Linked DNA regions of Homo sapiens: regions 1 and 3 are each linked to region 2. The links come from fine-mapping of genetic effects on gene expression. A gene starts in region 2. Each other region holds a variant in brackets. All regions are shown on one strand. Distances are from middle to middle.

Region 1 (10,351 bases), 210 kb after region 2:
ATACTAATTATTTGCTCACTTTTTTATTGTCAATAAACTAGGCATTTCCCTCCTTTCAGGCCTTTCCTTTTGCTGTTTCCTCAGTCTAGAAATTTCCCTCCTTTCTTTCTTTCTTTTTTTTTTTTTTTGAGATGGAGTTTCACTCTGTCATCAGGCTGGAGTGCAATGGCACAATCTTGGCTCACTGCAATCTCTGCCTCCTGGGTTCAAGCAATTCTCCTGCCTCAGCCTCCCGAGTAGCTGGGATTATAGGTGCCCGCCACCACGCCCAGCTAATTTTTGTATTTTTAGTAGAGACAGGGTTTCGCCATGTTGTCCAGGATGGTCTCCATCTCCTGACCTTGTAATCCACCTGCCTCGGCCTCCCAAAGTGCTGGAACTACAGGTGTGAGCCACCGCACATGGCCTCCCTCCTTTCTTTACTTATGAAAACGTACTTATCTTTTAAAGGTTTACTTAAATGCCACCTCTGCTGTGAGCCCATCCCAAATTCCATGTAAGAGTCTATTACTCATTACTCTGTGCTCCCATTGCACTTCCCATGGACTTTTATTAGAGTATTTTCATTCTCCTTTCCCTGATGTGCATAAAATAGCTATGAATTATTGGCCTCCTCTGTGCCACTATTAGGTTATAGGCAAACGGCATACTGGCTAAAAAATAAATAAAGACAGTTTCTGTTCTCTGTGCTTTCAGGTCCCCTCCCCTCACTGAGAGCTTCTTGGATCCTGTCCTGGGAACTTTCTCCTCATGCACTGCTTTATCCTGAGTCTGTCTCCACTGCTCTGTGGAAACCTGCACATTAACTTGCTTCCTATGAAGAAAATCTGTTGAAATAAAAAAGAAAATGGTTCTGAGCCCTAAAAGGAAGGACAATGAGGTATTAATTAGCAACAGTTCCCAAATCAGGGATTTAATTATTTGGCATTCAGACAGTCAGAAAGGAAATTGAGAGTAAGGAAATAAGCAAAAAATGTCCTATGTGAATAGGCAGAGAGGCAGAGCAGATGTCATAAAGCCTGTGCACTGCATTTTAGCCTTTTGCTCAAGTCTTTATCTTCTAGACCCAATCCTAACAAACCAATGATGTATTACGAAAAAGCAGACAAAACGCATGGCGTAGTGATGCTGGGACACTACCAGAAATAATAGGGTGTGAGAGGAGTGGATGCCATAGAATTAATGCAGAAGAAAAACAGATTGGAGCCCTCTAGCGGGGGGGCAAATAGTCCTCTAGTCCTCCGAGCTTCCACCATCTCCACCTCCATGGACAGCACTACATGGTGCCCAGCATTGACAATCACAGAGATGCCCGAATTATCAGGAACATGTTAAACTACCTGCTAGATCCTCTCAGAAGGCAGCCACGTGTAGGCTGGGTGCAGTGGCTCATGCCTGTAATCCCAGTACTTCGGGAGGCTGTGGCAGGTGGATCACTTGAGCCTAGGACTTTGAGACCAGCCTTGACAACATGGTGAAACCCTCTCTCTACAAAAAATACAAAAATTAGCTCGGCATGGTAGTACGTGCTTATGGTCTCAGCTACTCAAGAGGCTGAGGTGGGAGGATCACCTGAGCCTGGGAGGCAGAGGTTGCAGTGAGCCGTGATCACACCACTGCACTTCAGCCTGGAGCCTGGGTGACAGAGCAAGACCCTGTCTCAAGGAAAAAAAAAAGGGGGGCAGGGCAGCCAAGTGTATATAAGCTATTTAAAAACAAAAACAAAGTTTTAAAAATTATGTGTTTGTTCAAAAGGTTAAGATTTTCCCCAAGATATTCTCACAGTTTGTGCCCCTTCTTCTCAGGTCTTTGTTCATTTTTTGTGTGTTTTTGTGATGGAGTCTCGTTCTGTCACCCAGGCTGGAGTGCAGTGGCATGATCTCAGCTCACTGCAACCTCTGCCTCCTGGGTTCAAGTGATTCTTCTGCCTCAGCCTCCCCAGTAGCTGGGACTACAGTTGTGTGCCACCATGTCTAGCTAATTTTTCTATTTTCAGTAGAGACAGGGTTTCGCCATGTTGGCCAGGCTGGTCTTGAACTCCTGACCTCAAGTGATCCACCTGCCTTGGCCTCCCAGAGTGCTGGGATTACCGGCGTGAGCCACCGCACCCGACCTACAGGTCTTTGTTCAAATGTCACTTCCTGAACCCCTTGATTCAAATTGCAACCCCACCCCACTCCTAGCCACCCCACGCCCAAGCCCCTTTTCTTACCATATTTTTCTTTTTTCTTTTCTTTTTCTTTTTTTTTTTTTGAGATGGAGTCTCGCTCTGTCACCCAGGCTGGATTACAGTGGCATGATCCCGGCTCACTGCAAGCTCCGTCTCCCGGGTTCACGCCATTCTCCTGCCTCAGCCTCCCAAGTAGATGGGACCACAGGCACCCGCCACCACGCCTGGCTATTTTTTTTTTTTTTTTGTATTTTTTTAGTAGAGACGGGGTTTCACCATTTTAGCCAGGCTGGTCTCGATCTCTTGACCTCGTGATCCACCCACCTCAGCCTCCCAAAGTGCTGGGATTACAGGCGTGAGCCACCGCACCTGGCCTAACCATATTTTTTTATACCACTTATCACCTAATATAATATATAACCGAGTGGTTATTATCCATGTCTAGCATCCCCCAAAAATGTAAACTCCATGAGAGTAGACGTTGGTCTGTCTGTTTAGTTTCCTGCTGTGTTATGGGGAAACTGTGCGTCTGGCACCTATAGGCCTCCATTATTATTATGATGATGATTTATTTATTTATTTTTGAGATGGAGTCTTGCTCTGCCGCCCAGGCTGGAGTGCAGTGGCGCGATCTCGGCTCACTGCAAGTTCCGCCTCCCAGGTTCACACCATTCTCCTGCCTCAGCCTCCCAAGTAGCTGGGACTACAGTCTCCCACCACCACGCCCCGCTAATGTTTTGTATTTTTAGTAGAGACGGGGTTTCACCGCGTTAGCCAGGATGGTCTTGATCTCCTGACCTTGTGATCTGCCCTCCTCAGCCTCCCAAAGTGCTGGGATTACAGGCGTGAGTCACGGCGCCTGGCTATTACTATTATTATTATTTTTTTGAGAGAAAGTCTCACTCTGTCACCCAGGCTGGAGTGCAGTGGCGCGTCCTTGGCTCACTGCAACCTCCACCTCCCGGGTTCAAGTGATTCTTGTGCCTCAGCCTCCCAAGTAGCTAGGATTACAGGTGCTTGCCACTCTGCCTGGCTGATTTTTGTATTTTTAGTAGAGTCGGGGTTTCACCACGTTGGGCAGGCTGGTCTCAAACTCCTGACCTCAGGTGATCCACCCGCCTTGGCCTTCCAGAGTGCTGGGATTACAGGTGTGAGCCACCGCACCTGGCCAGGCGTTCGTTGTTGGATGAAAGCATGAGTGAATAAATTTAGTTATTTGGAAGACATATTTACATTGTTAAAAGTCATTCTATGGAAATACTGGCTAAGGGCACAACAATTATATGAGAATTTTTTAACACAGGGCATATTAATTCATTGGCAAGTATTTATCAAGGTCACACTCTATGCAGATGCTGTGCATTGGAGATTTGCTTATTTTGTTTCCACCCACACTTTTGAGTTCCTAAAGCCTTTACCAAGTATTCCACATGCAGAGTCACTGACACACTACACATCCATGCACACATGCACGTGCACACACACAGACACACACACAGACCTGACACTCTGGTTCCTTCTTATAGCCATGCTTCGATCTTATCAGCTCTCTTATGTAAAAGTTTGACAAGTCTGGTCTATGTCGCCTTCAGAAAATTCTTAGAAATAGGAAATGATTATATTGATTAGAAATGATAATGTTTTCCCAGGAGTGAGCCTAGAATCATTATTTAACCACCGTTTATTGTAATGTTGGAGGCAGACATTGGATCTTGAGGAGTACACTGGGCATAGAGCAAAAACTTGAGTCCTAGCCCTGGATCCATCATTTAAGAACTGAATGATTCTGGCAAGTGACTTAACCACAAATAGCTAGTTCAGAGGTCTTTTTTTTTTTTTTACAGGACTTTGTAAGTTATAAAGTGCTACACAATTTTAAGGAATCATCATTATTTTGTTGAAAAGTAAAATAATGTATGACACAGCACTAGAATTAGGGATGAGATCTTGGTGATTCATGACTCTTGATATGCATGGGTATCAGTCTTGCTATCTCAGACAACTTCTGATGGAATTTGCTGTGCAACCTTCACATTTACGACCTCAGTTTCATCATGTGCAAAACAAGGTTTCTACCTAGTTCCAGCATGCTGGGATGATTTCTCTGACTGATTACAACTGACAGGATCAGTAAGTCTGTAGCAGGAATTGGGATGGATTCC[C/A]GTTGGCCCTGAAGCCTGGCGTGATGTTTCTCTAAGCGTGAAACTAAACTTTCTTAATTCATGCCCTCATTCATTCATTCAATAAATATTTATTGAATATCAGTTGGTGGCAGAGGCTGTACTAGATGTTGGGAATAACAAACGGAAGAAGACAAAAGTCCCAGTACTATCAGTGATCAAAGTTGAGTCAGAGAGCAGATTTTTTTTTTTTTTTTTTTTTTTTTGAGGCGGAGTTTCGCTCTGTTGCCCAGGCTGGAGTACAGTGGCGCAATCTCGACTCACTGCAAGCTCCGCCTCCCGGGTTCATGCCGTTCTCCTGCCTCAGCCTCCCGAGTAGCTGGGACTGCAGGCGCATGCCACCACACCAGGCTAATTTTTTTGTATTTTTAGTAGAGACGGGGTTTCACCGTGTTGGCCAGGATGGTCTCGATCTCCTGACCTCGTGATCCGCCCACCTCGGCCCCCCAAAGTGCTGGGATTACAGGCGTGAGCCACCGCGGGTGTACACACTAGGAGCCGTGAGGAGAGAGGAGCAAGGTTCAGGGGCCCACAGAGGCAGGCTTGCTCACTTTGTCTAGGAGAAACAGATGGGGCTTTGCACGGAGAAAACGTTTCAGTGGGACATCAGAGGAGAGGTGGGAATTAGCCAGGCAGGGGTGGGAAACAGGCATGGAATAATGTAGGGAAAGAATGTGGGCACACCCTGGGGTATTTCACTTTGGCAGGTGCATTGGCTGTGTGCTAGGCACTGTAGATGAAAATGCATGAATATTCAAGGCACAGAAAGCAGAAAGGATGGAGCTGATGAGGACTGGATTGTAAAATGCTTGTAGGCCATAGTTAAAACCCTTTCATGGGGACGTGTAATGGTTAAGGGCACAGACTTACTGCATTGTTGAATGCAAAAGACTACAGAGCATGTTCCCTTTGTGTAAAACTATGTACCTACACCATTCAGTCGTTCAACAGATTAACAAATACTAACTATACAAAACACTGGGGATACAGAAGCAAGTAGGACAGAATCCCTATCTCTGGGCGAAACATACCAATAAAGTGTAACAAATGTTTGATTACAGGAACGCCAAGCAGGAAGACAAATCTGGAGGATTTGGGCCAGGAGGGAATGGGCCAGGGAAGACCTCCCAGGGGAGGTGACATGTTAAGCTGAATCTTTTTTTTTTGGTGGTGGTGGGGTTGGGGGGGCACGGACAGAGCCTTGCTCTGTCACTCAGGCTAGAGTGCAGTGGCACGATCTTGGCTCACTGCAAACTCCGCCTCCTGGGTTCAAGCGATTCTCCTGCCTCAGCCCCCGAGGTAGCTGGGACTACAGTTGTGCACCACGTCACCAGGCTTATTTTTTGTATTTTTAGTAGAGACAGGGTTTCACCATGTTGGCCAGGCTGGTCTCAAACTCCTAATCTCAGGTGATCTGCCTGCCTCAGTCTCCCAAAGTGCTGGGATTACAGGCATTAGCCACCGCGCCCGGCCATTAAGCTGAATCTTTAAGGGTGACTACGAACTGTCCGGGTGACTCTAGTAGGAAGTATTCTAAGCAGAAATACGGGTGAAGGCCTGGAGATCTGAGGAGGTAACTGAGACTTTATCATGGCTGCCATGCAGTGTTCCGGGTGGGGGTCTATGGTAAAGAGTTTGGGTTTCACCCCAAGGGAAGCTGTTGCTGGATTTTGAGCAGGTGAGCAGTATGATAAGCTTTGTATTTTGGATATGCATATCTATATCCATGTAATGCACATGTCTCACCTCATCAGCTTGGTGTGCAAAATAAAGACACCCTTCCTTAATACTCAAGTCATAATGCCCAGGAGCCCCCACCCATTCAAATTGGAGGGAGGATTATATCTCTGAGATTCACTTCTCCAGATATTTCTGAAGATTCGTCTATGAATCAGACCCTTCAGGCTTACCTTGGCTGCCACCTCCCAAAGAACATGAACTTGGCTGTGTCCTTGTAGGCTGACCCCTCCATCGATGACCTGCTTCTGCTGGCTGTGTCCAGGGTGGCCTCCCTGAAGCCACCGGAGCAGAGGCCTGGTATCTTCTCAGAGCAGCAGCCAACCAGGCAGCTGGAGGAAACCCCTGGTCTCTTTTGCAGCCAAGTGAGTGTCTTCAGGACTCTACTTGCTGCCTCTGTATTGGCTGGTGCAGGCCTATTTCACCTCAGTGTCTCCCCAAGAGAAAAGGGGAGACCCTCCTCCCATGTCACATTCAGAAGAGGCCTCCTAGTAACTGGCCTGTAACTGTGACAACTCTGGTGGATCTAGGCACATAAGCAGATAGCCATTCATCAGAAGGCATGACCAAATCATCACGTGGCCATGTCGGGAGAGGCTGTAAGCTCAGCTGCAGGCCCTGTCTGGAAGCAGTGTCCCCCTCTGACCTCAGGAGGGGACACAGCCATCCTCCTGTCCAAAGATCAGTCCCAATTTCTTTCACGGCTGTCCAGGGGGAGAGCTGTTCAGGAGGATAGAGACCATTATTACCCATGCCTCTTACTTGCCATCCACATTTTGGGAGGCTGGCTGCCTGCAGCTGTCAGGGCAGCTCCTTCCCATCACAGGAACCACGTTGAGCCTCCCAAGGCCGGTCCTGGGCCTGCCCCCTCCTCCCTCAGCCCTCAGACTGGCCTAATTCCCTGCCCAGGATTATCCACTTTTCAGAATGAGTGACAATAGAAGCATCCACTTCCTGCAGGGATGCAGTACCTCCCCCATAACCTCACAGCCGACTGACTTTGGCATATTTTGCATGATTTGGTAAATGGTATATATGCATAGAGAAACTTCTGGAGTGTTGTTTTCTCAAATTTTAATAGCAGTGTCTCTGGAACTCAGGAGTTTTTACAATCTTCATTGTACTTTACTATGATATTTGATTTTTTTTCATTATAACTGTGCATCATACTTATAGGAAAATAATTTAAGCCTTGGAATCAGATAGCCTTTGGCAAATCAGATCATCCATTTCCTTATCTATTAAGTGGGAAAAATAATATTTCACAAGGTTATTGAGAAAAAAATCAATGCCATTTTTATTTTCATTCCTCATAACTGACATAATTGCATATATACACATCGTGTGATTATATTGTATACCCTGGTGGGTTTCCTTAAAACAGATTCCATTTTCCCTTTCTCTTTATTTTCCCCTCCCTCCCCTTCTAGTCTGTTCCACTCATGTCATGGCTCCAGGCTGAACCTGGGCCCATGACACAACCCACACAACCATGTTGACAACCTTGAATGCACCTTCCAAGTTTTTTTTTTTTTCCTTTTTTTTTTTTTTTAGACAGAGTCTCTCTGTCACCCTGGCTAGAGTACAGTGGCGCAATCACGGCTCACTGCAGCCTTGATCTATCCAAGCCCAGGTGATCTTCCCACCTCAACTTCCTGAGTAGCTGGAACTACAGGCGTGAACCACGAAGCCCAGCTAATTTTTTAATTGTTTGTAGAGATGAGGGTCTCGCTTTGTTGCCCAGGCTGGTCTCAAACTCCTGGGCCTCAAGTGATCCTCCTGCCTTGGCCTCCCTCTTCCATGTTTTTTTCCATGGTAATTCAATAATAAAAGTATATAGCTATATTCCCACATATAAATGGTTTTTTGATCATTTTAAAAAAGAAATCGGCCAGGTGCAGTGGCTCACAACTGTAATCCCAGCACTTTGGGAGGCTGAGGCAGGTGGATCACCTGAGGTCAGGATTTTGAGATCAGCCTGACCAATATGGTGAAAGCCCATCTCTACTAAAAATACAAAAATTAGCTGGGGCGTGGTGGCAGGTGACGGTAGTCCCAGCTACTCAGGAGGCTGAGGGAGGAGAATTGCTTGAATCCGGGAGGCGGAGGTTGCAGTGAGCTGAGATTGTGCCACTGCACTCCAGCCTCAGTGACAGAGCGAGACTCCATCTCAAAAAAAAAAAAAAAAAGAAATCATATTATACTCAATTCCATGTATCCTATGTATCCTGCTTTTCTCACTCAACAATACTTTTTGTAACTTCATCCTAGTCACGTGGCAAAGCTCTGATTTTAATGGCTGGATTCTGTTTCATAATTTGGAGATATAATTTGTCATCTGTGCCCATGTTATCAATATTCACTTTGTTTCTAGTTTTTGCCACTATGAACAATACTACAACATGTGTGTGCACTTACATACACACACTCACACTCACACACACACTCACACCCACACACACTCACACCCCCCCCCACACTCACACCCACACACACACACTCCTTTGTTATACTGATGATTTTATTTCTTTGTAATAGGCTTTCAGAAATGGGATTTCTGGGGAAAATATAGCCAGTCAACAATATTTCCAGTGTGTGCTAAGCACTAAGTGTCTTTTACATAGTAATTGCTTAATAAAGTGATGTTTGCTATTATTCTTGTTATAAGCTGGGGAGTCATATTTTGAAAAAGTGTAGTCATTTATGGGAGTCCTACTTATTTAAGATACATTTACTTTAAAGACACAGGTTATCTGTAATAACTGAACTAACAACTGTCCTTTCCTTGTTTATACAAAGTCCAAAGGAAATAGGACTGCATTGGAAAACTAAAATAGACATGAAAGTTTGCCTCCTCATTTCCTCCTTGCCATTTCAAATCCATTTCCTCAGTGAGACAGGAACCCAGAAGCTGAAGATTTTGCTCCCATAATTGGAGATTCTTGTTTCGCATTTTTAAAAAAAATTGTTATGAGCTTCTTTGCATATCTGATTTGAAAAACAAAAAGAGAGCTCATTAAAGAGTTTTTCTATTATGGAGAGGCAATAAGGAACCAACTCGTAGCTTTTCAATGAGATGAATGAATAAGTGCCTGTGTCTGCAGCCCCACATCTGCCTTCTCAGGGCAGAAGTTTGCAGGAGAAATCAGGCAATTTCTAGTCTGAAGGTTCTCCTTGTTATATTCAGCTACTCACAATGAGAATTGAGGCTGCAGCTTGTGAAGAGAGGGCAGTTTTGCAAAATGCACATTTGGTGGATTCTGGACATGAGCCATTTGACCAAAACGTCAAAGCATGACAGATTTCTAACTCCGGACTGAAATGGAAGCTTGTGCATTGGCTGAAAGCCAGTCCTGGACTCCTGGACACAGCCGAGAGCCCAGAATGTGAGGGAAATTCTGTGTGAGAAAAGGCATACCCACAGTTTTAATGAGAAGGGAAATTGGAGCTTCCATTTTCCTACTGCCTTGTTCGCTTTTTGTCTGGACACCTTTGAGCCAAAGGAAGCTGGGGAGGCCCATGTGGGTGCCCTTCCGATTCTGAGCCGTCAAACTGGCACGCTGTCCACACGGGTGGAGGCAAGCGTCAGAGTCCCGGGCTGTTTCTCAGCAATTGTCCAGCTCTTTCTGCTCTCTTGCTTTCTGTCTGGTTTGCATTTCAGTGAATGCCTAACTTCTTGTTTTCTGGCTTTTAGGCCCATTTTTGGCCCCATAATAACCTCTTGGACAGAATTGTTTTCCTAGTTTGACCCTCATCAGTCAGATTTTTTCATTTTATTTTAATCGTTTTTATTTTTATTTTTTTGAGATGGGATCACTCTATCACCCAGGCTGGAGTGCAATGGCAAGATCATGGCTCACTGCAGCCTTGATTGCCCAGGCTCAGACAATCCTCCTGCCTCAGCCTCTCCAGTAGCTGGAACTATAGGCACCACTGCCCTTGACTATTTTTAAAATTTTTTTGTAGAGATGAGGGGAATCTCGCTATGTAGCACAGACTGGTCTTGAACTCCTGGCCAGAAGTGGTCCTTCTGCCTCAGCCTCCCAAATTGTTGGGATTACAGTCGTGAGCCACTGTGCCCAGCCTGATTTTCCTGTTTTGATCCAACTCCAGTTCTAAAACCCTATTTATCTCCCAGCATCGGGTTGTCCTCTTGAAAGGGAAATTGGAAGTTACAGTGATGGGGTCAAGGGCTCAGTTTTCAAGGTGGAGGCTTAGACAGAACTCATTTCAGACCTGAAGAAGGAAAAGCTGATTGATGCTC
Region 2 (9,868 bases):
GTTTGTTTTTGAGACGGCGTCTCACCCCATTGCCCAGGTTGGAGTACAATGGCACAATCTTGGCTCACTGCAAACCTCCACCTCCCGGGTTCAAGCGATTCTCCTGCCTCAGCCTCCCGAGTAGCTGGGATTACGGGTGCGTGCCACCATGCCCAGCTAATTTTTTGTATCTTTAGTAGAGACGGGGTTTCACCATTCTGGCCGGGCTGGTCTCGAACCTCGTGATCCACTCGCCTCAACCTCCCAAAGTGCTGGGATTACAGGCGTGAGCCACTGTGCCCAGCCGAAAGCCCTTGTTCTTAGGAGGTGTTTGCTGAAAAGTCCCATGATGTATATAACAAACTTGCAAGTGGCTTAACGAAAAATTTGTGTTTAGGATTTTTTTTCTTTTTTTTTTGAGATGGAGTCTCGCTCTATCACCCAGGCTGGAGTGCAGTGGTGCCATCTTGGCTCACTGCAGCCTCCGCTTCCCAGGTTCAAGCAATTCTCCTGCCTCAGCCTCCCGAGTAGCTGGGATGACATGCACCTGCCACCATGCCCGGCTAATTTTTGTATTTTTGTAGAGACAGGGTTTCACCACATTGGCCAGGCTGGTCTTGAACTCTTGACCTCAGGTGATCTGCCAGCCTCAGCCTCCCAAAGTGCTGGGATTACAGGTGTGAGCCACCGTGCCCGGTGGTTTAGGAATTTTTTTTTTTAATGAAGGTGGGGGAATGGCCACTGTGAAAGAAAAATAAATCTCAACTCCAAAATCACTAAGCTAAGGGAAAAGTCAAGCTGGGAACCTGCCTCCCATTTTAATTCCTGAATAAGATGGCTATAAAGATAAAACAGCTACATGCCTCCCTCACAATTTGCCCACAAGGAAATTCCTTGTGGGCCTCAAGATCTTTACCCTACTCAGGATCATGCCAAGAATTAAAAAAAAAAACAAAAAACAAAACTTTACCCTGAAACATTTCTGTTGAATTCATCCTGGCAATGTAAACTGATAGCTGATCTTAACAGGTGCAGGACAGAAAATCATTCCTCTGCTCACCTGAGAGAAATGCTTATCTGATTGCTTCCTCAGACCTACTGTGTATGTAAAAATGAAGATTCACTGAGCCAGACTAGATTGTGAATTCACTGAAAGGCTGATCAAGGACTCAAAAGAATGCAAGCTTTTGTCTCTTATCTACCTATGACCTGGAAGCCCCCCTCTTCGAGTTGTCCTGTGTTACTGGATGGAACCAAAGTATATCTTACATATATTAATTGATGTCTCAGGTCTCCCTAAAATGCACAAAAGCAAGCTGTACCCCAGCCACCTTGGGGACGTGTCGTCAGGACCTGTTGGCAAAATAAACTTTTAAATTGCTTGAGACCTGTCTCAGATATTTTGGGTTTACTGCCACCACCAATGGCTCTCGAGTTCAGATCTCCTCTGTTGAAGAGAGTCAGGGGGTGAGGGTGGGGGAGGCATGGAATCAGTTTCTGCTCAATTCCATGTTCCCACGTGAAGGTGTAACCACCTAAAGGGCTCACCTTGCCCGCTGCCTAGACAGACCCCATTTATCAAGACAGGGGAAAGAGCAATTCACACAGAGCCAGCTGTGCGGGAGATTGGAGCTTAATTATTACTCAAATCAGTCTCCCTGAGCAGAGCATTCGGGGATGGAAGTGTTTTTGTTTTTGGTTTGGTTTGGTTTGGTTTTAGACGGAGTCTCGCTCTGTCACCCACTCTGTCTGGAGTGCAGTGGCACGATCTCGGCCCAGTGCAACCTGTGCCTCCTGGATTCAAGTGATTCTCCTGCCTCAGCCACCAGAGTAGCTGGGATTATAGGCACAAATCACCATGCCTGGCTAATTTTTGTTTTTAGTAGAGACGGGGTTTGGCCATGTTGGCCAGGCTGGTCTCTTACTCCTGACCTCAGGTGATCTGCACGCCTCAGCCTCCCAAAGTGCTGGGATTACAGGCGTGAGCCACCGCGCTCCGACTGGGGATGGAAGTTTTTAAAGATAATTTGGCCAGTAGGGGCTTGGGAAGTGGAAAGTGCTGATTGGTGAGGATGGAGATGGAATCACACGGGGGTCGAAGTGAAGTTTTCTCGCTGTCTTCTGTTCCCGAGCGGGGATTGCAGAACTGGTTGAGCCAAATAATTGGTCTGGGTGGTGTCAGCTGATCCATCCAGTGCAGGGGCTGCAAAATACCTCAAGCACTGATCTTAGGTTTTACAATAGTGATGTGATCCCCAGGAACAATTTGGGAAGGTTCAGACTCTTGCAGCCAGAGGCTGCCTGACCCTAAACTGTCATTTCTAATCTTGTAGCTAATTTGTTAGTCCTACAAAGGCAGACAGGTCCCAAGGCACAAAGGTGGTCTTTTCGGGAAAGGATTATTACTAATTTTGTTTCAGAGTCAAACCATAAACTAAATTCCTTCCCAAGGTTGGTTCAGCCTATGCCCAGGAAGGAACCAGGACAGCTTAAAGTTTAGAAGCAAGATGGGGTCAGTTAGGTCTGATTTCTTTCATTGTCATAATTTCCTGTTATAATTTTTGCAAAGGTGGTTTCAATGAGACTCCTTGGCCAGCTTCAGTCAGGGAGCTGATTCACTCTGTGCAGCTGTGGCCCAGGAGTGGGGTTAGGGTCCTGTAACAGATTGTGACCAGGGTTGCCATGTAGCTGGGGAGGAGGCAGAGGTCTCTAACATGGGGGCACTATCTTGTCCTGCAGAGATATCCCAGTGAGTGTGCACTGTAGAGACCCCCGTCCAGACACTCCCCAACCTCCTGAAGGGACAGAGGAGCCTCGCAGATCAGCTGTTTTGAGGCCATCCTCCAAGCAGAAGAGCTGGCATGCTCTTGAGATGTCCCGCTGGGCATGGGGGCTGAGACCCAAACGCCTTCCTGCATGGCCCAAACCTGGCTCCAACCTAGGACCGCCCCCATCCCCACAGCTTCAGGAGCAAAGCCAGTGCCCACAAATCCCAAAAAGGTTTTGCTAGTTTGCACCTGGTGGGGAATGACCATATACGTTGAGCACCTATTCTGTGCCTCTCAATAACCTTCTGAGCGGGATGGTTCTCCCCTTTTAAAAATGACGCTGAGGAACAGGGAAGTTAAGGTCTGTCCAAGATCATGCAGCCTGTAGGGGCCAATGCTAGGAGGACAGCTGAGGTCTGCCTAACCCCGAAGGGCCACACACCCACATCACTGCATCCTGGTCTTCACGCAAAGTAGCCAGGGAGGGGTCTAGGAGCCAGGAAGAAACCTCTTCCACAGCCCTGCCTCACCCAGCTGACCCCCAGAGCAGGCGGCTGCAGTGTCCTGGGCCAGGAGCAGCATTTGTTCCACAATGGAGGAGGCCACTCCCTGCGTGGTCCTGGGGGCACTCATACCTCTCAAAGGCCCCTCATGCTGCCTGCATCCCCAAGTGCTAGCGCAGGCTGACCCCAGGTGGGAGCAGTTCCCTCCTAAGGCTAGTCCTGGGGGCCCAGATCCTGGCCAACCCCTGGAATAAAGGCTGGGGCAGAAGGGGAAGAGGAGGGAGGGGGATTCCACTGCCATGTGGCAGGAACCAGGCACTTCCAACCAGGACCACCTCCTTGCATCAAGGGACCTATCACATGGCATGATGAAAGTAAAACACCTGGCACGCAGGAGGCACTCAACAGGTTCTAGATGTTCCTATAGTCATTGCTGCTGATGCTTGTTAAAAAGCTCTTTACGCTGGGCGCGGTGGCTCATGCCTGTAATCCCAGCACTTTGGGAGGCCAAGGCAGGTGGATCACCTGAGGTCAGGAGTTCGAAACCCCGTCTGTACTAAAAATACAAAAATTAGCCGGGAGTGGTGGCACATGCCTGTAATTCCAGCTACTTGGGAGGCAGAGGCAGGAGAATCACTTGAACCCCGGAGGTGGAGGTCGCAGTGAGCAGAGATCGTGCCACTGCACTCCAGCCTGGGCGACAAGAGTGAAACTCCGTCTCAAAAAAAAAAAAAAGCTCTTCTCTATTTTCTTCTTCAAAAAATTTATATACATATTATTTATTTATTTTTGAGACAGGGTCTGGCTCTGTCTCCCAGGCTAGAGTGAAGTGGCGCGATCTCGACTCACTGCAACCTCCGCCTCCTGGGTTCAAGCCATCCTCCTGTCTCAGCCTCCCGAGTAGCTGGGACCACAGGCACGCGCCACCACGCTCGGCTAATTTTTGTATTTTTAGTAGAGGCGGGGGTTTCCCTATGTTGCTCAGGCTGGTCTTGAACTCCTGGCCTCAAGCAATCTTCCCGCTTCGCGGGGTCAATAACGATCAGTATCGATCTAGCCAGGGCAGGTCCAAGCCGTTTCCTTTAAGGGTTCCCTTCTGAACATCCTTTTCTCATTTAGACTTGGGAGGCAGGACTCAGCACCTGTTTTTTTTTTTCCATAGGCGGAGGTGATGGGCCGGTGAGGCTGGAGAGAAAGAGCCTCGGCCAGAATTCCGAACTCCGAAGCTGACCCAGCTCCCGTCCCTCACACTTCCCGGCTGAGATTTATGGCACAAAACCAGGGATCGTGGATTCTGGCATTGCATTTTGGTGCTTTTTTGCCTGCTTCATAACCAGGCCCTAATACACAGGCGATTTTCAGAGGTTGGAAAATGCGTCCTTCCCTTTCCCTCAGTTTGTGGCTTAGACGGCCACGTCCAAGTTACTTTATCAGGAGAAATCCTTAAGAAACAGTTTCACTGTGAAGTGCTCAAGTTCAAGGCTTCCGGTGGCCCCTCAGGGCCCACGCCGCTAGGAGGGAAGCCTTCAGTCCCAGGCTGGAGACAGGCCGCGTGCTCTGAAAGGGCACAAATGAGGCGACCCTGGGGCTCTGGTCCCAGAAAGTCTCTCCAGCCTGGTTCCCCACCTGTAAGTCGGGAGGGTGCACTCAGCCCTTAAGCAGGAGGCTTTAACTCCTGAAATGCTTAGTGAGAGAAACTAAAACACTTGCAGGGAGGGAAAAATCCCGGCAGAATGGCCCATCCCCCGGGGCCATTTGCCTCTCGGTCCACCCAACCCGTGGAAAAGCCGGACTTCCAGGGCGGCTCCCGGCGGCGGCTAAACTATCGGGTGGCAAGAACGCGGAAATGCGAAGCAGCTGCTGGTGGAGCCCGCAGGCCAGGGTGGGACTGTCGCCCGGGGCGGGGCTAGGAGGGGAGGGGCGGGGCGAGGAGGGGCGGGGCGAGGCGAGGTTGGCCACGGGATTGGGCTAGGTGAGGCCGACCGGGAGGGGGCGAATCTGGGGGCGGGGCGAGATGAGGGTAGTCCGAGGACTGAGCGAGCCCGGGCGGGCCCGTAGGCGAGGCGAGATGAGGCTGGCCAGGGGGCGGGGCGGGCCCGGGCGGGAGGGGCGGGGCGGGGCGGGCCCGGGCGGGAGGGGCGGGGCGGGCCCGGGGGCGGGGTGCGTCCAGGGGAGGGGCGGAGCGAGGCGGGTCCGGGGCCTGGCGGCGCGCGGAGGGGCGGGCCCTGGCCGGGTGGTCCCGGGCGGATCCCGGGAAGGCGGAAGGCTTCGGCAGAGCTGCGCCGCCGAGGCTGAGCGGTCCCTTCTCGCTGCGGCCGCCCAGGTGCCCGCGCCCGTGGCGCTATGGAGGCGGCGCTGCTGGGGCTGTGTAACTGGAGCACGCTGGGCGTGTGCGCCGCGCTGAAGCTGCCGCAGATCTCCGCTGTGCTAGCGGCGCGCAGCGCGCGGGGCCTCAGCCTTCCGAGTTTACTTCTGGAGCTGGCAGGGTAAGGCCCGGGGCGGCCGGGGCTGCCTCCTGCCCCCTCGCAGCTGCTGCCGGCTGGGAGCCCAGGAGAGCCTCGGCTCGAAGTAGGGCGGGGATGATCCCCGCGCGCCGGCGTCGCAGCTGGGCGGCCGAGGGTGAACTAGGGAGCCTAGGGGCTCGGGGTGCTCTTCCCACGGCCACCCGCCACCCGCGTACATTGTTTCTCACCAAGCCCCGCGTGGCACGAATTGATTGCGCACGCCCATTTTACAGATGAGAAAACAGACCCAGCGGAGGCAGCCCTTGGTGCGCTAGTGACAAAACCTGCTGGCCCTGAGCAAGGCCATTTGCACCTCGAGGCTGTCATATTCATTGTCCCTAAACTCACCACGCACCGTCAACCTCGTTCTCGGGCCTCGGTTTCCTCACCTGTGAAATAAGGGGTTGAACTAAGAATGTATGAATCTCTTCTCTTCTCCCGGTGATTGGTGGGGAATCTTTCCTGGTTATTTAATGAGATTCCTTGGGAGAGGGTCTTAAGACAATTGCATTTCTTGTAGAAAGAAGTTTCCTTAGTCATCTGTAAGGAAGTTGGAGAGTCTCTGCAGTTGGGAAGGGGTGACGGAAAGGTCGTTAAATCCTTGATTCTGAGGCAGCTTCTAAGGCTTTCCTATTCAAAGTATTCATCATGCCAGAGCGCCAAACTTTTGGGGTATCATTTTTGAGCCCCAACAATAGGAAAACACATACCTCAACCTAGTGGTCTCGCCCCTTCCCCCTGGCCAGGCCAGGCCTTCCCCTTTGCCCCCCGCCATCACCCAGTGGGGTCTGAAGCCTGGTCCTCCACACAAGCCTTCCTGGTGGGCGGGGTGGGGGGTGCGGCATACAGGATGGGAAGAAGCCAAGGGGTGCGGGGGAGAAAGAGGAGACCTCAGGTGTGGGAGGGTGAGGGGTCCCACTCAGGCTTTGGACCCCGCGCCGGCCCTATGGAGCCCGGCCCTGGGCACAGTCATCCAATAGGGGGCTTTGAGGGGAAATTTTTGGGAAAGGCTTGCAGTGGGAGGGACTGTGACCTCTTCCAGGCTTGTGAGTGACTCTACCCTGCGGGGTGGGGAGGGGGGGGTCCCAGGCTGGATGGCAGGGTTGAGAGGCACCCAGGGGAGGTGGGCAGCATGCGTTTCAGGTTGGTGCCACCACCAGGCTGGGAGCAGAGAGGCTGGAGCGATGAGGTTGTGGCAAAGGACACAGGCTGGAAGTGGCTGTGGTGACTGTTCAGGTGGGAGAGGGGACAAGGGCATGAAAGCCAGGAGTGGGATTTGGCCTCGGCCCCTTGCTAGGTCCCTGAGCTGGGGAAGCTGAAGCTGGACCCATGAAGGAAAAGAAGCCAGGCTGTCTGTAGAGTCTATAGATTCCCTCCTGCCGCCAGCCCCTAGGCCTGCATTTCCACCACTTTTGCAGCATTGCTTGAAAAATGCAAACCCTCAGAGATACGCAGGTGAGGGCTCCTATTAGATCTGCCAGCTGTCACCTCTCCCAGCTCACCTTAGTGAAAGCTAGACCTCTGGCAGTGGAAGGATCTTCCTGGGCATGGGAGCTCAAGGGTTGGGTGGGGCAGCAGCTTGCTGCCATCCCTGCTGGCCTGTCTAAGGGTCTTGCAGTTGATCACGTGCAGGTAAAGGGGGCTCTGTCGGGGCTGGTGCACCAGCTCTGCAGCCTCCAAGCCAGGGCCAGGGCCAGGCACACAGACTTCTGTAAAATGGGCTTGGCTGTGTCAGGACCCATCCTCCTGGCCCTCCTGTCTCCCTGCCTGCCTCCCTCATGCCCTTCCCAGCCTTGCCTGGGAGGCCCACCTGGGGCTGGCCATGCTTGCCAGCTGGGCCCCCGGGCCCCTGACCAGATCAGGCAGCAGCCGGAGTTAGAGCAGAAGGAACCCCAGGGCTGTCGCAGTCAGCCACCTGGAGGGCACGGGCCCTCTTTGGGTCTCCATTTGAGCAAACTAAGAGCCTGGTTTTGAGAGCACTGAGTCAATTGGAGCATGAAGTGTGTCTTAATAATGCCAGAAAAGCCTTTTTAGTGTGGCTTGGTGTGAAGGGCAGGAGCCTCTGCCCAGGGACCTGCCTCTGCCACCCAGGGGCATTCCTTGTAGCTGGAGCCTTCCCCCTCGCAAGTTCCCAACCTTGCTGCTTCTCCTGCCTCCAGGGCTCTGCTGGGCTCTGCCTCCCTGCTCTCTGCAGCCAGGAGCCTCCTGGAGCACAAGATTCATCCAACCTGCCCTGCCTGCAGCCTTCCATGGACTGCGGCCCTCCCACGGTGGACCCTTAGGCTGTAGAGCCTTGGCCTCTGGGTAGGATGCCTTTGGAGCCCACCCCTTGCTCCAGGTCACTTGTCCCCCAGCCTGGGTGGGGGTACGTTTTGTTTAACCCTCTAGTAGGTGTTGAGGGAGAAAACTCCAATGGCTGCATGGAGCAGATGGGAATGGAAACAAATGGGGCTGTGTCAGATGCCCGGCTGGCATGATTTTATTATGATAAGCACTATAGCGATTACTTATTAAAAGAAACTTTAAAGGGACAGGCATGGTGGCTCATGCCTGTAATCCCAGCCCTTTGGGAGGCCGAGGCGGGCAGATAACCTGAGGTCAGGAGTTCAAGACCAGCCTTGCCAACATGGTGAAACCCCATCTCTACTAAAAACACAAAAATTAACCAGTGTAGGCTGGGTGCAGTGGCTCACACCTGTAATCCCAGCACTTTGGGAGGCCCAGGCCGGCGGATCACGAGGTCAGGAGATCAAGACCATCCTGGCTAACACGGTGAAACCCTGTCTCTACTAAAGATACAAAAAATTAGCTGGGCGTGGTGGCTGGCGCCTGTAGTCCCAGCTACTTGGGAGTCTGAGGCAGGAGAATGGCGTGAACCCGGGAGGCGGAGCTTGCAGTGAGCCGAGATCGTGCCACTGCACTCCAGCCTGGGTGACAGAGCAAGACTCCGCCTCAAAAAAAAGAAATTAGCCAGGTGTAGTGGCACACATGTAGTCTCAGCTACTCGGGAGGCTGAGCAGGAGAACCGCTGGAACCCGGGAGGTGGAGGTTGCAGTGACTGAGATCGCGCCACTGCACTCCAGCCTGGGCGACAGAGCAAGACTCCATCTCAAAAAAAAAGAAACATTAAAAACTAAAGGAAAGACACTGTCCCCACCCCACCTCCCCAGGCTGCAGGGATGGGGGGAGTTTGAATCCCAGGGAAAGCAGGGAGTAGACGGCAAAACCTGCAGGGGCAGCAACGGCTGCATCCAGATCAGCCTCGGGAAATCCAGGCTCTTCATCTTGTATGTTCTTGGTGTCTATGGGCCTCCATTTCCCCAAGTGGTCTGTAAGTTGTGGAGGCCAGCATGGATGACCCCTGAAGGTGAGAACGGGCTCTGACATCCCCAGGTTCTCAGGCCTGGCCTGTGGACTGTGGCTGCGTCCCAGGGGTCAGCACACACTTACTTCGATGGTGAAGACCCCCATAGCTTTTGTTCTTCAGCACTCAGTGGCTGGCTGTGGCCCCACAGAGGGGCTGGGGTGCAGCCTCCCCCTCTGCCAGCCCCCCTGGGCTCAATCTCCCAGGGGAACAGAGGGGGCTGCTCAGGAGGCTGGCAGGAGGAGAGTCCCTGCGGCAGGGCAGGGCAGAGGCACCGCTTGTCCCTGAAGCTGGGAGGTGGCTCAGCTGCACAGCACCCGGAGGGCCTGCAGGCAGCTGGGGGTGGGGACCCTGCTGGGCACGGTGGGGGCCCGCACTCGGGGACCAGGCCTGTGGGAGGCCCTCGTGCTCAGGGCAACACTGTGACCTCCTCTGACTCCGCCCCCAGCTAAGTTGTGCACTGTCAGAAACAGGCCAGGGAGGCACAGCCTGTTTGTGAATCGGACTTTTCCAGGATTCCTTCCCAGCTTAGGAGATTGGAGACCCTGGGGGGCCCCTCCTGTGTGTTGAAGTCCCATGGTTCCGGCTCCCCTTTCTTCCTGACCTGAGTGGTCTGAACACACAGGTGAGAGGGAGGGAGCCAAAAAGCTGGGTGATGAGACAAACAGGTAGCCCCAGGAGACCACAGGGATTCCGGTCCTGAAGGGAGATGGCTGGGTGTGAGGGGGAGGCAGGAAGCTCTGCCTTTTC
Region 3 (10,351 bases), 31 kb before region 2:
ATAGGACAGAGAGAGAGAGATTTATTCTGAGGAGTTGTTCATGCAATTATGGAGGCTAAGTCCCAAGATGGGCAGTCAGCAAGCTAGAAACCCAGGAAAGCCGACAGCTCTGGTCTGAGTCAGAGCCTACGGATCTCCAAACACTAAGTGCCAGTCTGAAAGCCAGCAGGCAAGAGGCCCAAGAAGAATTGATGTTTTCCTCTCAGTCCAAAGGCAGGAAAAGAACAGTGTCCCAGCTCCAGCAGTCAGGCAGGAAGAGCCCTTTCGTGCCAGATTTTTTGTTCTATCTGGGTCTTCAAAAGAGACCCACATAGACTTCAACTGACTGGATGCAGCCCACGCCCATCAGAGAGGGCCACCTGCCTCGCTCGGCCCACCCATTCAAATGCAGACCTCACTTAGCAATGCCCTCAGAGACACATTACACAGTTGGTAACGCTCCACCAAATATGGCACCCTTGGCCCAGTCAAGGTGATCCATAAAATTAACCATCGTACCATGTCATTTCGTTGTTGTCAGGGGTCAATGAAATAAAGCATTCGAGTGGTTAAAGAGGTACTCAAGATGTGTACCTATTACCACCGACATCATTATAACAGCAGGACACGGGTACATCAGATTCCCAACATTGCTAAAGCCACGGTGTGATGATTGGGATGAGCTAAAGTATTATAATTGTCTTCTCCATGAGCTGTAAGAAGAACAAACAGTGGCCAGGCATGGTGGCTTACACCTGTAATCCCAGCACTTTGGGAGGCTGAGGGTGGGAAGATCACTTGCACCCAGGAGTTTGAGAATAGCCTGGGGAACAAAGGGAGGCCTCATCCCTACAAAAATCAAAAAGAGTAACTGGGCATGGTGGTGCACACCTATAATCCCAGCTACTCGGGAGGCTGAGGTGGGAGGATCACTTGATCCCAGAGGTTGAGGCTGCAGTGAGCCATGTTCACACCACTGCACTCCAGCCTGGGTGACAAAGCTTGAGGCCCTGTCTCAAAAAAAAAGGAAAAGAAAAGAGGCTGGGCGTAGTGGCTCATGCCTGTAATCCCAACATTTGGGAGGCCAAGGCGGCAGGATCATTTGAGGTCAGGAGTTCAAGACCAGCCTGACCAACATGGTGAAACCCTGTCTCTACTAAAAATACAAAAATTAGCCAGGCGTGGTGGCACTTGCCTATAATCCCAGCTACTCAGAAGGCTGAGGCAGGAGAATCACTTGAACCTGGGAGGCAGAGGTTGCAGTGAGCCAAGATGGTGCCATTGCACTCCAGCCTGGGCAACAGAGCGAAACTCCATCTCAAAAAAAAAAAGAACAACAAAGTGGTGAAAGGGCATGGGTCCCTGGTCAGGTCAACACCATCACCTCCCCCAGGAAGCCCTGCCCACCCAACCACACCCTTTGTCTGCCCACTGACTTCCCAGAGCTCTTGCCTGCCCAGTCCTGGGGCAGAGCGTCCCTGAGTCCTAGTTTAATTGTCCACACATCCGTACCCCGTCCACCTCTAATCTAACCTGCTGCCAGACAGTGTCCATATGTCAAGCTGTGTGTGCCCTGGTGCCACCCAGCACACCCACGTCCCCACTCATCCATGCAAGCTCCTCCCAACTGTCAAGATGAAAGTGTCACTTGTCAAAAGTGCACCAGGTGCCAGCCTCTGAGCAGGTGCTTCATTGCCTCTGTTATTTCATTTAACTATCATGCATCATGACAAATAAATGATTTGAAGAGTCTCTTAGGGAGGGTGCTATTGAAGAAAACATGCTCTGCTGCCCAGGTGACAGGAAGTGAGGGCCTGAGAGTAGGTTTAGAGGACCCGAGACAGACAAGCTGTCTCAAGAGAAATGGACAGGAACTAGGGGTTGAGGGAGCAGAGACAGGACCAACCCTACAGCAAAGGAAGGCGGGAGGCGCAGGCCCGTCCTACCTTCCCAGGATTTAGCTGAATCCCAGGACTCTGGAGGAAGGGTGCAGGAGTCTTGAGGTGATGCCTTCCCCAGAGTCTGGTCACCTGGGAAGGTGGATGCCGGAAGAGCTTCAGGGTCGAGCCCAGGATCTGCATTTTAACACACTTCCCACATCGTGTTTGGGAACCACCGCTCCACCTCTCATGAGGAGGAAACAGGCCTGTGAAAGGAAAGAGACTTGGAATGAAGGAACCCCAGAGCTGAAGGGCCTCCGAGCTCACCCAGCCCCAGCTCACTCTCAAACAAGACGTATTTGTAGCAGCAGTTTCTGCTCAGTCCCTTCTGTGACAGCAATGTCACTACCTCCCAGAAGTGCGTCTCAGAAACAACTCACTTCGCAGTAGCAGACGAACTCACTCCTGGGCTTTGCCATTCTTTAAAGACTAACAGCCTTAGAAGAAATCATTGCAGAGCTGGCCACAGGCCACCTGGGAGCTAGGCAGAATCTGTCTTTGGCCCCAGCCTCTCTGTGATCTTTTCTGTTGCCATGGAGGGATTTCCCAGGACCCATGAGTCAGAGCCCTGAGTTCAAATGCCAGCTCTGCTGTGTGACCCTGGCAGGTTACTCACCTTCTCTGAGCCTCCCTTTTCCAACAGGTATAATGGAAATATGACCTACCTTATGGGCTGGTGTGATGGGGAAATGGCTTAACAAACAAATGAGATGCCTGCAACCCCCAAAAGTCCCTTCCTGTCCCCTTTCACCATATCTCCTCCCCTTCCTCAGTCTCAGGGGCCTGTAGCACCCCTTCCCCCGGCCTTGATTGCTCTCGGGGGACCACTGTGTGGGTTGCTTTCACCATGTGGACAGTAATCCTCTGAGTGGCTCCCTCCCCAGGCACTTCCGCATTCCTGATCTGCCTTTTCCCTGAGCTTCCGAAGACTTTCTCCCCGGGAAGAAGCACAGCTGAACTGAGAATGAACAACCTCAAGGGGGGTGAGCACAGCACTTCACAGTTTGCAGAGCCTCTGGCCCCACCCTCTCATCTGTCCTCTCTCAGCACAGGGGCAGGTCAGGGTGATGAAGCAGGAGCGGGGACAGAGGTCTGCAGAAGCCAGTCCCACAGATCTGGGGACGCTCACCTGGCCAGGCACCCACTTCCCACCCTGACCCCAACCAACCTCCACCTCCCACCACACTAAGGAGCCCCGCTGCTCCTTTAGGACCCTGGGTTATCGCTCCTCTTTAGGGGACAGCCTTCCGCCTTGGTGGGTGGGGCAGAGACTGAGGCTCCAGGCATCAGCCTCACCCCTGACAGAAGGGGCGCCCTCAGCCCTGGGCTCTCTCCACCCTCCCTCTAAGACCCTCAAGGTGTACAGAGCTATATATGTTACAGGAAAGGGGTCCCGATCCACAACCCAAGAGAGGGTTCTTGGATCTCACCCCAGAAAGAATTCAGGGTGAGTCTGTAAAGTGAAAGCAAGTTTATTAAGAAAGTAAAGGAATAAAGAATGGCTACTCCATAGGCAGAGCAGCCCCGAGGGCTGCTGGCTGCACATTTTTATGGTTATTTCTTGATGATCTGCTAAACAAGGGGTGGATTATTCATGCCTGCCCTTTTTAGACCATATAGGCTAACTTCCTGACATTGCTGTGGCATTTGTAAACTGTCATGGCCCTGGTGGGAGTGTAGCAGCGAGGACGACCGGAGGTCACTCTCATGGCTGTCTTGGTTTTTGTGGGTTTTGACCAGCTTCTTTACTGCAACCTGTTTCATCAGCAAGGTCGTTATGACCTGTGTCGTCTTGTCCCATGACTTAGAATGCCTTAACTGTCCAGGAATGCAGCCCGGTAGGTCTCAGCCTCATTTTACCCAGCTCCTACGCAAGATGGAGTTGCTCTGGTTTACATGCCTCTGACATGAGCATGTGTGCCCACCTCGATCAAATCCATCAGGGGCACCTGCACCACTTAGCCCTGCCAGCCATTGGCCTGCTCCTACGGTGGGTCCCCTCCAGAAGTCCCCCAGAGCTCTTCCTCTCTTCACCTGCTTCCCGCCCACACATGCCCTGTGCTCCAGCCACAGGCACCCTGTCCAGATCCCTCCCCCATCTCCATACCTTCGCCCATGCTGTTCCCCCACCTGGCATGCTGGCACCCTCCTCCCCACCCCCACCCCAATCCAGCCACCTGCAAACTCCTCCAAGTTCCAGCTCAAGCCTTTATCCCCTTGGAAGCTTCCCAGAGAGGCTCAGACAGAAAAGACACAGCCAACTTACTATTCAGTGAGCCTCTCTCCCTGTCAGGGATACGAGGAAGGCCTGTCACTGAGACCCTACGATCCTGCCCAGCAGGGCTGCCACTCTCCAGCCCACTGTGGCACTCATATTGAGGACAGGGTCACATACCTGGTAATTATAACTTCAAGTCTATTTAACCATATGCCAGGCACTGTGCCAGGAGCCTTGCGTGGATCAACTCATCCAATCCTCACCCTCAGCCTAGAACTCGGAGGGCACAGAAGAGGCACAGCCACAAGGCTGCTGCTGCAAAGGACGACACAGGCAAATGCAGGTTGGAATAGGTGAAAGGGTCTCTCAAGGAAATGAGCTGGAGTCGGGCCTGGAAGAGCAGCAGAACATGCTCCTGGCCCTGCCACACACCTGGGTCCCAGAGCTACATGGAGCTGGCTGCCACCCCTGTCTGCAACCCTGGCCATCCCCGCAGGACGCCTGACAACTTCCTTACCCTGGCCTGCTGGCTAGAAACACCCGCCAGGCAGATGGCCTTTCTGACTGGCCTTCTCCTGGCTACTGCAGCCTCACCGGAGGGCCAGGGCCAGGGCCAGGGCCAGGCCAGGGGTGGCTCCTGCCTCAGCAGGACAGGGCAGCTCCAAAGGTGGGCTCTGCACCAGGGTCTCCCCTGAGCCAGGCAGGGGCTCCCCACGGGAGACAGTGCCAACCGCACAGGCCAGGGGTGCAAATTGAGGCTGGGGAAGGAGAGGCTGATCTCCTGGTGATCAGGGGGGCAGCACCAGCCTCAGCCATGCAGGTGTGAATTCCTCCCCACAGCCTGAGATCAGTGCC[T/A]CACCCCCGCCCTCTCTCCCCAGGCTCCCCGCTGGATTGCCCCTGCCTGACACCCCATGCTGGCAACCAGAGGCTGATTCTGCCCGACTGCCTCCAGCTCCTCGAGTGTTCAGCCTGGGTTCCAGAGGGAGGCCATACAGCCCCGTCAGAGACCACCAGGGAAGTATCACAGACCGCAGCCAGCGGGTGAGCTCAGCTGGGAGTTTGCACCAAGCCTGGCTCCGGAGTGTGGCCTGACTGACGCAGGCTGGGACCACCCTACATGGGCCGGCAGGTGTGGGTACGTCCTGGGGCTCAGAGAGGGGCTTGGAAGGCCAAAGGCAAGGCGGCCGGACCCGTTATCGCAGCACATAGCATCCCCTTGACTTGCTGGGAGAAGCTTGCGCCCTCATAGTTAGCAATTCCATGGCCACTGGAGGCCAGAGTGGGAGCTGGGAGGCTCTGGACACCATAGCTTTGGGCCCCCCGGCCCTCTCGGGCTGGTGTTCACCTGTAAATGCTGCTTCCGCTGTTCAAGCGCTGATGCTCCTCGTCGCTCACGGGTGAACAGCTGCTGCCCACCTCCAAGACCCCCCGCACCCTGCACGGCAGGTGACCTCTTGCGTCCCTTCTGGGCCCTCCCTGTGGATTTAGAATGTCGCACCTGCCTGCCGAGGCTCACAGCTGGGTTCCTTTCACAGACACCGTATCCGGACAATCCATTTGTTCTGTCTTTAATCAGAAATGGCCATAGCGAACTACCGTGCGTCCAACCTGAGACACCTGGGGATGGTGGAGCCAGGGGAGATGCCGCGGGCCTGAAGGAGGATGCGAAGCTCCAGGGTGCCCCCTGCTGCCTCCGGAGCGTGCTGCAGTCATGGCCGACGTGGACCTGGCAACCTGCTCCGATCTTCAGAAATATTATCCACGAGACCTGCTTTCTCCCATAATGCATTCGGCTGGCCACCCATGGGAAGCTACAGAATAAAGAACATAAAGACATGCTCCAGAATATGTTCCCAATGCTTAAAATTCCCCCAACTCCCAGGAATCTAGAGTCTTTGAAATATAGATCATTGAGTATCTTTTTGATAACCGAAGTAAAACTGTTTATGTGAGATGCTTTTTCTCTGCAAATAACAACTGAAGAAGAGGCCAGAAACTATAGTCAGAAGGGATTCTGGTCCTGGGGGTCCATTTCTTGCCTGTGCGGTCTAGGTGGGTTGTGGTCTTCCAGTTTCTGCCCCTAAATCCACATGTGATCGGCTCCACTTCACAAGGCCGTCACAACACTTCACAAGAGAAATGCAAGAAAGCACACTTTTCAAGCAGTGTACACAGTTGCTGTTTTTAATGCCATTATCCATCAGGGAATTTCTCACTTGTCTCCCAGAGGCTCGAGTGGATTGAAAATATAAGGTCTATTTAATGAAAATTATCAAGGAAGTTCCTGGGGAAAAATCCTTAGGCGTAGTCAAGTATTAGTCAAACCACAGCTCTGCAGTTCCAATAAAGCACAGACTTTAGAAGTTGTATGAGTGAATTCCATGCAAGGCCTGCCACTTATTGCCTGGGTCCCTGGACAAGACACTCAGCCTCTTGAAGACTTTGTTTTCTCATCCATAAAATGGAGCTAATACTGTTCACCGAATGAGGTGAGGTGAGGACTGGAAATAATGCCTGACGTACAGTGGGGGCTGAATACAAGGTTGGTTCTTTTTTTTAAGATGGAGTCTCGCTCTGTCACTCAGGCTGGAGTGCACTGGCATGATCTCAGCTCACTTCAACCTCCACCTCGAGGTTTCAAGTGATTCTCCTGCCTCAGCCTCCCAAGTAGATGGGATCACAGGCTCGTGCCTACCCACACCCAGCTAATTTTTGTATTTTTAGTAGAGATGTGGTTTTGCCATGTTGGCCAGGCTGGTCTCAAACTCCCGACCTCAGGTGATCTACCCACCTCAGCCTCCCAAAGGGCTGGCAGGAATTACAGGTGCGAGCCACTGTGCCTGGCCATACAAGGTCGGTTTTATCCCTTAATAGATCCCAGAAGGAATTCAAATCTGTATAATCTGTGATTGGTTGAATTGTGCTTCTCAAAATTTGCATTGAAGTGCTAATCCCCAGCACCCCAGAATGTGACCTTATTTGGAACCAGGGTCATTGCCGATGTGATGAGTTCGGATGAGGTCATACTGGAGTAGGGTGGGCTGAGATCCAGTATGAATGTGCCCTCATAAAACAGGAGAAATTTAGACAGAGACACACAAAGAAACAACACCATGTGAAGATGAAGGCAGAGATTAGGGTGATGCTTCTGCACACCAAGGAACATGGAAGATTGCCAGGAAGGTCCCAAAAGTGGGGTAAGGGGCCTGGCACAGATTCTCCCTCACTGTCTCAGAAGGAATGAACCCCACCGACCCCTCTTCTCAGACCTCTGACCTCCAGCACTGTGACACGCTCCATTTCTCTTGTTTAGCCACCCAGTTCATGGCATTGTGTTAGGGCAGCTCTGGCAAACTAATACATAATCCAAGAGAGACTGTCATAGATTTACTATCTTTACTGTTGAATAATCCTTACCAATGGGCCCAGGCCGGGCATGGTGGCTCACGCCTGTAATCCCAGTACTTTGGGTGGCCAAGCAGGGTGGATCGCTTGAGCCCAGGAGTTTGAGACCAACCTGGGTAACATAGCGAGAGTCCATTGCTACAGAAGAATAAACAAAATTAGCTGGGTGCGGTGGTACACACCTGTGGTCCCAGTTACTCAGGGCACTGAGGTGGGAAGATCACGGGGCGCAGGAGGCTGCAGTCAGTCGTGATGGTGCCACTGCACTCCAGCCTGGACGATAGAGGGAGAGCCTGTCTCAAAAAAAAAAAAAAAGCCCAGGAAGGTAGGGTCAGAGCCTAGACAAGAACCCAGTTCTCTGGATTCTCAATTCTGTGCTCTCTGCACTACCCCTGACAATCATATCTTAGGCGTTAACATGATTGACCAGGTGCAGTGGCTCACACCTATAATCCTAGCACTCTGGGAAGTCAAGGTGGGCAGATTGCTTGAGCCCAAGAGTTTGAGATCAGCCTGGGCAACACAGTGAGACCCTGTCTCTACAAGAAAACACAAAAACTACCCAGGCATGGTGGCGCATGCCTGTAGTCCCAGCTACTTGGGAGGCTGAGGTGGGAGGATTGCTGAACCCTGGAGTTGGAGGCTGCAGGGAGCCAAGATCATGCCACTGCATTCCGGTCTACTCCCTAAAGATATGCAGTAGACACGGGAGGAAGCACGTCCGTTCAGACTTTTCTCATGCATTCAACTCATATTATAATAACAACACCAGAATCAGACTGCATATACCACTTTGCAACACGTTTTGTTATTGTTGTTTTATCATGTTTGTTTTGCTTAACATTATATAGATGACATCTTTACAAGTAATAAGTATAGTAAAGATACCACAAGTAACATAACCAGTCTTCTATTGATGGAATTTTTTTTTTTTTTTTTTGAGACGGAGTCTTGCTCTTTTGCCCAGGCTGGAGTGCAGTGGCACGATCTCAGCTCACTGTAACCTCCACCTCCAGAGTTCAAGCAATTCTCCTGCCTCAGCCTCCCGAGTAGCTGGGACTACAGGCATGCACCACCATGCCCGGCTAATTTTTTGTACTTTTAATAGAGATGGGGTTTCACCATGTTGGCCAGGTTGGTCTCGAACTCCTGACCTCAGATAATCCACCCGCCTCGGCCTCCCAAAGTGCTGGGATCACAGGCGTGAGCCACTGCACCTGACCCTTGATGGACATTTAGATTGTTTCCTTTTTTTTTTTAACTAACACAAATAACACTGCAGAAAATAGCCTCAAGTAACTTTGCACATTTGTATGTTTTTTTGCAGAATAAATGCCTAAACATGGCAAATCTAATATGTTTGTGATGGTTTTAAATAACCTCTATAAATTATTTGATCCTCCTCCCATCAAAAGTGGAGTTTAATTCTCCTCCCTTTGAATATGGGCCAGTATTCATACTTGTTTCTAATAAACAATGTGGTAGAAGTGGCACAGGGTGGCTTCTGTGGTTAGGATAGAAAAGGTGACACTGCTTCCACCTGGTTCCCTCTTTGTCAGTTCCTCATCCTTGAAACACAGCCACTTCACACTGGAGAGAAGCCCAAGCCACATGGAGGGGCCGCAGCTGGCCGCCAGACCCACCTGAGGTCACAGCCGACAGCTGGCATCAACCTCCAGCCTTGAGAGTGAATGAACCTTCGGATGGCCAGGTCCCATCTCATTATTTTATATCGAAATGATTTACTCTCAAAAGAAAAATGAAAGAAATACAAATTATAGCAATGTTATCTTTAGCAAGGACTGCTTGCAAGGTTGGCCCTTGGTTCGTATCTGGGAAATTGGATTTGGGGAGGGTTCCCGCCCTTCCCTGATATGAATGGCTCACTGCCCCTAAACTGTGTAAACACTGTGGTTTATGTCTTCGTACTGGGAGTCCAGAATTTTGGTACATGCTAGGCAGAGGGGGCCTTTGTGACTAGCCTGCAGTAAAACCCTCGGTGCCAAATCTCTAGTGAGTGTCCCTGACAAATGACATTCCACACGTGTTGTCCCAACACACTTCTGGGGGAAGTGGGCGCGTCCAGCATGTGAGAGGGTCTTGGACCCTCACACTCCATTTCCTCTGGACTTGACCCATGTGCCTTTTTCCTTTGCTGAATTTGCTTCATTTCCAGTTGTCGTAATACATCATAGCCTCGAGTATCACTGTATGCTGAGTTCTGCGAGTTCTCCTAGCCAATCAACAAACCCAGGGTGGTCTTAGAGACCCCAACACGCCACAGCAACAAGACAACAGGGAAGCCGGCGCTTCCTGTATGTGTATACATTGCTGGTGGTACCTGGGCACTGTGAGAGCAACACAGCCTGTCTGTTGAGAGCCACTCAATGTCCACTTCCTCTGACTCAGTAATCCCATCTGGGAATGTGTCCTTTGGCAACAATTCCACAGCAGGAAGCAGAGGCTTGAAGATATTCATCACAGCTTGTGCTAAACCTGAACAAAACCTAAATGCCCAAGAAGAGAAAAAATTGGTTAAACACATTATCATGCATCAACTCTAAGAAACTGGCTACAATGAGATGTGTAAAGATTATAAAGCACCTGTGGTCCCAGCTACTCAGGAGGCTGAGATGGATCTCCTGAGCCCAGGGAGGTGGAGGCTGCAATGAGCTACGATCATGCCACTGTACTCCAGCCTGGGCGACAAAGTAAGACCCTGTGTCAAAAAATATATATATATATAAAGAGAAACATGAAAAAATATTGCTGATACATTAAAAAAAAAAATTTGGCCAGGCATGGTGGC

Evidence for each region. PIP is the estimated chance that this variant, and not a neighbour inherited with it, causes the effect.
Region 1: its variant is the best candidate, but not a certain one, in a credible set for the expression of SLC66A3 in whole blood (INTERVAL, PIP 0.86).
Region 3: its variant is the best candidate, but not a certain one, in a credible set for the expression of SLC66A3 in whole blood (TOPMed, PIP 0.53).

What each region holds. Positions count from the first base shown.
Region 1 is chr2:11,358,838-11,369,188 of GRCh38, forward strand. It overlaps PPIAP60 (peptidylprolyl isomerase A pseudogene 60), which reads left to right. Exons shown (of 4, transcript XM_047446546.1): 3 at 6,309-6,452. Among named protein-coding and RNA genes, the nearest start is that of PPIAP60, 12 kb to the left of the region's middle. The variant C/A (reference allele first, on the strand shown) is at 4,333.
Region 2 is chr2:11,149,954-11,159,821 of GRCh38, forward strand. It overlaps SLC66A3 (solute carrier family 66 member 3), which reads left to right and starts at 5,514. Exons shown (of 7, transcript NM_152391.5): 1 at 5,514-5,736. The coding sequence starts at 5,594. CIMIP5 (ciliary microtubule inner protein 5) reads left to right here. Exons shown (of 3, transcript NM_001371321.1): 3 at 1-1,364. RefSeq lists an enhancer at 2,345-2,845 and silencers at 5,101-5,580, 5,691-5,930, 8,591-8,839.
Region 3 is chr2:11,118,838-11,129,188 of GRCh38, forward strand. FLJ33534 (Putative uncharacterized protein FLJ33534) reads right to left here. Exons shown (of 9, transcript NR_040080.1): 2 at 10,147-10,261; 3 at 9,884-10,049; 4 at 5,746-5,948; 5 at 4,315-4,452; 6 at 1,926-2,125. Among named protein-coding and RNA genes, the nearest start is that of FLJ33534, 8.2 kb to the right of the region's middle. The variant T/A (reference allele first, on the strand shown) is at 4,993.